2 linked regions of the Homo sapiens genome follow. The protein of the gene in region 1 interacts with the protein of each later gene in a pairwise test. Each region holds a gene or a part of one and is shown on either strand. Other genes may lie near its edges.

Evidence for each region. The genes of interacting proteins can lie anywhere in the genome.
Region 2: the proteins of FLT1 (region 1) and CRKL interact in binary tests that used the Homo sapiens proteins (3 or more experiments, as listed by UniProt).

What each region holds. Positions count from the first base shown.
Region 1 is NC_000013.11:28,429,039-28,432,686, forward strand, and holds part of FLT1 (vascular endothelial growth factor receptor 1 isoform 1 precursor), read right to left. Parts: intron 2,273-3,648; coding exon 2,098-2,272; intron 1,130-2,097; coding exon 1,012-1,129; intron 1-1,011. UniProt on the Homo sapiens protein: Tyrosine-protein kinase that acts as a cell-surface receptor for VEGFA, VEGFB and PGF, and plays an essential role in the development of embryonic vasculature, the regulation of angiogenesis, cell survival, cell migration, macrophage function, chemotaxis, and cancer cell invasion.
Region 2 is NC_000022.11:20,930,897-20,934,544, reverse strand, and holds part of CRKL (crk-like protein), read right to left. Parts: intron 767-3,648; coding exon 301-766; intron 1-300. UniProt on the Homo sapiens protein: May mediate the transduction of intracellular signals.

The sequences.
Region 1 (3,648 bases):
CTCAGACACTGGAAGAGTGAATGTACCTCCTGGAGTCATCAGATTACTATTCAATTTACTATTAAACCTAAAAATTTACTACTAAACGTTTTTGATATTCTGAAGCAAAAAAGATCATTTTTCTACTGCAATGGCATGAAGACATAGCACAAAGTTAAAATTTTCTCTTTAATTCCCTATTAAGTATTTGAGGGAACTGCAAACAAACACTGCCCTCATATGACATTGAAAGCCAAATCAGCTCTGGTTAGGGAGATTCTAAAATGGCGCCACATCCCTATTGTATGGATTGTTTTGCTAATCAGTTTTGTACTATACCCTTTGTTTAAAATGTAATGACTTGAGCCAAAGATATTGGCATTTAACAGTAATTTTGTAAAATGATTGCAGATCATAAACAGATTACATTGTTTTACATCAGGTGTTGTACCAGTGTTTTAAAAAACAACTGCTGAAGGAGGTTTTGAATATGTATCTTTCTAGCCAAAAAAAACTTAATTAGTTCAAATAGGCCCCATCGTCCCCCTCTTCAAATGAGTAAGTCTTGTCTCTATTAATGTTTGTTTAATTTTAAAACAGGACTGGAACTTTCAACCCAGCTGTATATAAAAGAATTATTTTCAGCATTCTCATTACAAGAGCCCACTTCTTCAGGGTTAATAGAGCATGTTACATATTCAAAATGCTTCCTAGTCATTGCTCAACACATCCCATTCAAAGAATGTTGACATCATAGGAAGGTTTAGAGATGCAGAAAGTTAGCCACAGTAAGAGACTAGACTGAAGCGAGCACTCAAACAAACCTCATCTCTCGCTTACCTTGCTACATTATTTCCTTTTCCCCAGCCCTTCTCACCTCCACCACCCAAGAATCTACAGAGTTCTGAGCTCTCTGGGGCTGTCTGAGGAACGTCTCTTGGTATTTTGTCAGGAATTCGAGTCATTAGGCTCTTGCAGCTTCCCACTTACAAAGTATGTCTTAAACTGTTATGGAAATAAGGATGGTCCTACCATACAACTTCCGGCGAGGGAAATGCCTTCACTTTCATAGAGAGCCGGTAAGACCGCTTGCCAGCTACGGTTTCAAGCACCTGCTGTTTTCGATGTTTCACAGTGATGAATGCTTTATCTTTGAAAGGAGAAGTGATACATACATTAGAAAAGAATAATTTCCATAAACAAAACCTTAGGGCCTCATTCAGGGAGGGTGTAATCAATGAGTAAATAAACAGAGCTGAATTATGATAGAGCCTATCAATGAGCCCAAATGTTGATCATGAATAGGATACTTTAAAAGCACTGTAATTGGTGAACGCCTTTCAAATCAAATGGTATCACGTCCTAGCCACATAAAACAGTGGCAGAGCAACAGAAAGTGAAACACCTTAAATATCTCTATCACAATAACAAAGAAGTGGGAAGATATTTCTAAAAATCTACCTGGCCACTATAAGCAAGGTGAGAAAAAGTTGCTCTGTACACCCTAAAACAACCAATTTGATATCAAAAATCAACTGGAGAAAGACAAAAGGAAATAAAGGCTACTGATAGAATTGTTCCATAGTTTCTGCCCTCCACACTGTTTCCTTTTCAGCAATGGAAATAAGGTCTTTAAGCATTTTCTTTATAGAATTTGCATACTGAAATTAAGCAACAGCATTAGGATTCCTTGAGAGTAAAAGCAGGAATAAAATAGCATTAATTCTAAATGATTTAGCATACCATATTTTTATTTCTCTAATTCATGGTAGTACCTGAGAAATTTTTCTTAGATAATAAAGATAAAACTCATCATCTTTTTCTGTTTTGTTTATACAGAACACTAAGAATTTCATAAATATATTAGGTTCTAACCGAATTATTAGCCATAATAAGCATCTAAAGAAAGGACTCTCTGTTCAATTCAAAAGTATTAAATGTAAAGAGTACTTAATGTGGTTTGCTTTTTGACAGGGGGAGGAGGGAACCATGGCCAAGCTGTATTCATTCATGATAATGTAACTCTTGGCCAACAGAAAACTGACTTATTTAGAGAACACAGACATCTACAATGATTAGAAAGCATAGCATGAGTTGGCAACGCTGAACTATGCTTACCATATATATGCACTGAGGTGTTAACAGATTTGAATGATGGTCCACTCCTTACACGACAAGTATAAAGTCCTTTGTCTTTGTTCTGCATTTTGTCAATAGTAAGAACACTGTAGAATATGTTGGCATGGGAATTGCTTTGGTCAATTCGTCGCCTTACGGAAGCTCTCTTATTTTTCTAGAAAGAAAATGTATAACAAATGTAGAAGGAGTGAGTGTTCATGCTTAAAGTTATATAGGATTTTAACATTTCTTAGATCATTAGTTCGACAACAGCTTCTGTTTTATACTAAGAATCATGTCAAATCCACCTAGAGCGTAATGTTTGGAAACTACATCTGTGTCTAGAGGTGCTTCAAATATGTAGCATAGCAGGATTTATTTAGCACTTAATTTTCTTCAAATACACTTTCACATATACTATCTCAATTGTTTGTCCCAACAACCTAATGAGATTGGCAGGCTGACTGCCCTTTTAGTGATGAAAAAACTGAAGGAAGTGATACCCTGGCCCAAGTTGGCTAGGAACTGAAGTTGTTTGAGCATAAATCTAGTGTCCTTCCTCTGGCACACACACCTCTCTACACAGTAACCTGTTCCCTAGGCATAGATATCGCACACAAACGTGGACAATCATAAGCCTTAGTTAGTGTCTGGCTTAATGACAGTGCTTCTCTCACCAAATCACCATGTGAGTTTCCTTTTTTGTCCCTACGAGATATGAAGGAAAATATAATGAGTCTTGGCTGTACTTACTAAGGTGGAATAATGCTATAGTTTCATTATTTCACTATTTGAACAGTGCTTGCCCATGTCAGCTAAATCACAGTAAATGGATCTTTAACCAAGACTTGGAAGGTGCTGTCCCAGGTTTGTCTCAGAGAAGATCAAGAATTAGCCTTAGGCTCTGCAATCTGACCTGGCCACAATGACAGTCCTGCTCACTGTTTTGAGAAGACAAGATCACATTGCCGTCTCCTTTTTTTTTTAAGCACTATATTTTATAACTAATAAGTTATTTCCACCTCTCAATCCTTCCCCATAGTCATAGGGGGCGGAGGGGAGGAGCATGGAAAAATGTCTTTGGGAGCTGTCCAGAACTGATTTTTGGATCTTGAGCTTAGTTCTCCTCTGTGCCACGTTTAATACACTTCTACCCACCTGTCCTTTTACTTCCCCATTGGAACAGACAGACACATGTTGAGGCCATTTTCTTCATTCTCAGCAATAACCAGAGAGAAAAGTCAATTGCCACTATCAAAAGTCAGAGAACTAGTCCCCTAACGTAACAGACTGAGGGAGCTTTCTGCAGCTCTATTTATACAGGTACTACTTCCTTTGCCAAGCTGAGTAACACTGGTATTGCTTCTGACTTGGGAAAGAACTCATCCTGTGTTTTAGAATTGCTTCGCCCAGTACTGCAGCCACCAGCCACGTGTGGCTATTAAAATTAAATGAAATCAAAAATTCATTTCCTCAGTCACACTAGTCACATTTCAAGTGCTCATCTGCCATATGTGGCTAGTGGCACAGTACTGGAGCACAAATACGGGA
Region 2 (3,648 bases), on another chromosome or scaffold:
CTAATAATGGGCCAGGCATGGTGGCTCACATCTGTAATCCCAGTACTTTGGGAGGTCGAGGTAGGAGGATTGCTTGAGGCCAGGACCTCGAAATCAGCCTGGGCAAACAACTCTTTTAAAATTAGAGACCTCGTCTCTATAAAAAAATTTTAAAATGAAACGCTAACAGTGCGTATCTTCCAAAATCATCCAGTGCTCTAATTCCATGAATATAAGCTTAAATGAGCAGAAACTAAACTAAAACTAAAAATTAAAACCAAATGTCAAAGGACCCAAAAAGCTAATCTGAACAGATTTTACCTCTAATGCCAAGGCAGTCTTGTCATAAGCACAGGGTACTCTTTTCTGGATTGCTTTCGCAAAGACAGGTCCATTCTGTGTGGATGGCAAAGGGGTGATTGCTGCCCCAGGAGAACCGGAAACTGCAGGTAGAGGAGTTGTGGTCTGAGGTTGAGCGTATGCATGAGCAGGTTCTGGGATCCCATAACTGTTGGAATTCCTATTTCCATGCTTTCCGTGTGGTGAGGATCTCACAAGCTTTTCGACATAAGGGACAGGAATCATCCCAACCCGGCCATCCTTGTTCCGGGCACTCCACCACTGTTCTTCAGGCTTCTCTATTATCACTAGGATCTCACCCTTTTTAAAGGGCAGGTCTTCGGCATCATTCCCAGGAAAATCATACAGAGTCCGTACATATTCCAGGTTATCTTCTGCTGTAGGCAGGTTGGGTGCTGAGACAGATCCCATTGGTGGGCTTGGATACCTTAAGAGAGAAAGAAAATTACTCTAAGAGAAAAATCTTACTCTAAGCCAGTGCCTGTCAAACTTCTTAATATACCACTCTCCTCTATAATAAATTATTTTCCTTTTTTATGAGACAAGTTTTGCTCTTGTCGCCCAGGCTGGAGTGCAATAGCGTGATCTTAGCTCACTGCAAACTCTGCCTCCCAGGTTCAAGTGATGCTCCTGCCTCAGCCTCCTGAGTAGCTGGGATTACAGGCGCCCACTACCACGCCCAGGTAACTTTTTTTATTTTTAGTAGAGAAGGGGTTTCACCATGTTGGCCAGGCTGGTCTTGAACTCCTGACCTCGGGCGATCCACGCACCTCGGCCTCCCAACGTGCTGGGATTACAAGCATGAGCCACCATGCCCGGCCTCTACATTTTTTTTGGAGATGGAGTCTTGTTCTGTTGCCCAGGCTGGAGTGCAGTGGCAGGATCTCAGCTCACTGCAACCTCTGCATCCCAAGTTCAAGCAATTCTCCTGCCTCAGCCTCCTGAGTAGCTGGGACTACAGGCACATGCCACCACGCCCCGCTAATTTTTTCTATTTTTAGTAGAGACGGAATTTCACCTTGTTAGCCAGGATGGTCTTGATCTCCTGACCTCGTGATCTGCCTGCCTCGGCCTCCCAAAGTGCTGGGATTACAGGTGTGAGCCACTGAGCCCAGCCTTTTTTTTGGAGACAGAATCTTGCTCTGTCACCCAGGCTGGAGTGCAGTAGCGCAATTTCAGTTCACTGTAACCTCTACCTCCCGTGTTCAAGTGATTTTTCTGCCTCAGCCTCCCGAGTAGCTGAGATTACAGATGTGCAACACCATACCCAGCTAAATTTTGTATTTTTAGTAGAGACAGGATTTTGGCATGTTGGCCAGGCTGGTCTCAAACTCCTGCTGGCCTCATGTGATCCACCCGCCTCAGCCTCCCAAAGTGCTGTCATTACAGGTGTGAGCCACCACGCCTGGCTTTATTTTCCTTTCTATATTCTTAGTAGTTAAGAAGGTTCTATCATGTTGTAATTTTTGTAGTCTGTACTGTCCCAAAAGTTACTATTCTGAATGTCTTTTCAAATTACAAGTATACACACACACATACACTCCATCTCTGTTTTACAGAAACCTTTTGATTACACAGAGATACCTGGTTTAAATTTATTTTTATAATCTCAAGTAAGTTCGGAAGCTGCCTTCCTTTGGACCCTTGTCACAACCACCACACACTCTTCCTCCCAGTCCTAATCTATGGCTTACATCCTGCACACTTCCCTGGACACACAGAAAATGACAAAGGCCTCTGCCTCTGGCCTCTTGAAAAAAAAGGAACAAAAAAGGGCTTACAGACTTGCCAAATTAAAAATAATAAATCCACCAGGCGTGGTGGCTCAGACCTGTAATCCCAGCACCTTGGGAGGCCAAGGCAGGCAGATGACTTGGAGACCTGCCTGTCCAACATATCAAAACCCTGTCTCTACTAAACAGACAAAAAATGAGCCGGGCATAGTGGCACACACCTGCGGTCCCAGATACTCAAGAGGCTGAGGCAGGAGCATTACTTGAGCCCAGGAGTTAGAAGCTGCAGTGAGCTATGACTGCATCATTACACTCCAGCCTGGGCAACAGAACAAGACTGTCTCAAAACATAAATAAATAAGAGGCCGGCGCAGTGGCTCATGCCTGTAATCCCAGCACTTTGGGAGGCTGAGGTGGGCGGATCATGAGGTCAGGAGATCGAGACCATCCTGGCTAACACGGTGAAACCCCGTCTCTACTAAAAATACAAAAAATTAGCCGGGCATGGTGGTGGGTGCCTGTAGTCCCACTTACTCAGGAGGCTGAGGCAGGAGAACGGTGTGAGCCCGGGAGGCGGAGCTTGCAGTGAGCCAAGATTGCACCACTGCACTCCAGCCTGGGTGACAGAGCGAGACTCCGTCTCAAAAAAATAAAATAAAATAAAATAAAAATAAAAATAAATAGCTAGCAAGAGTAGTAGGAGCAAGAGTAATAATAAAGAGCTCATACTTATTATCTATGCTAGGCATGGTTTACGATCTTTGAAGAGATTGGATTATTTAATAGTCTGTGAGGTAGATGCTGTTATTATCCCCATTTTACAAATGAGGAGCCAAAGAAGAGGTTAGACTTGCACTCAGGGAGTCTGGTTCTAAACTCTTCACTCATAATGAGCTAATCAGCCTTAGGGACGAACCCTGCATCTGTCAGGTGTATGAGAATTAATGGCATAATGCATGTGAGGCATTCAAAATTACCGAGCAGCACCAAGCATCCAATGTACCGACATGAACACACACATACCCCTTCAAGTATATCCCTGCTTCTATTTCTTTCTCTTTTTTTTGAGACAGGGTCTTGCTGTCATCCTGGCTGGAGTGCAGAGTGGCACAACCACAGCTCACTGTAGCCTCCACTTCCCAAGCTCAAGTGATCCTCCCACTTCAGCCTCCTGAGTAGCTGGGACTACAGGCAGTTGCCATCACACACAGCCAATTTTTAAATTTTCTGTAGAGATGGGGGTCTCACTATGTTTTCAGGGCTTGTCTTGAACTTCTAGCCTCAAGCAATTCTCTCGCCTTGGCCTCCCAAAGTGTTGGGATTACAGGTGTGAGCCATCACACCCAGCCCCTGCTATTTCAAGAGCCACAGAGAGCCTGTGAACAGTCCAGTAAGTACCATATAAATTTCAGACACTATTAAGAGCACAGTCAGTTCCACCTTAGACTCCATCCAAGAGTATTTTATTATTTGTATAGTTAAAAGCAGTTAGCCAGTGTGTGGTGGCTCACGCCTGTAATCCCAGCACTTTGGGAGGCTGAGGTGGACGGATCACAAGGTCAGGAGATTGAGACCA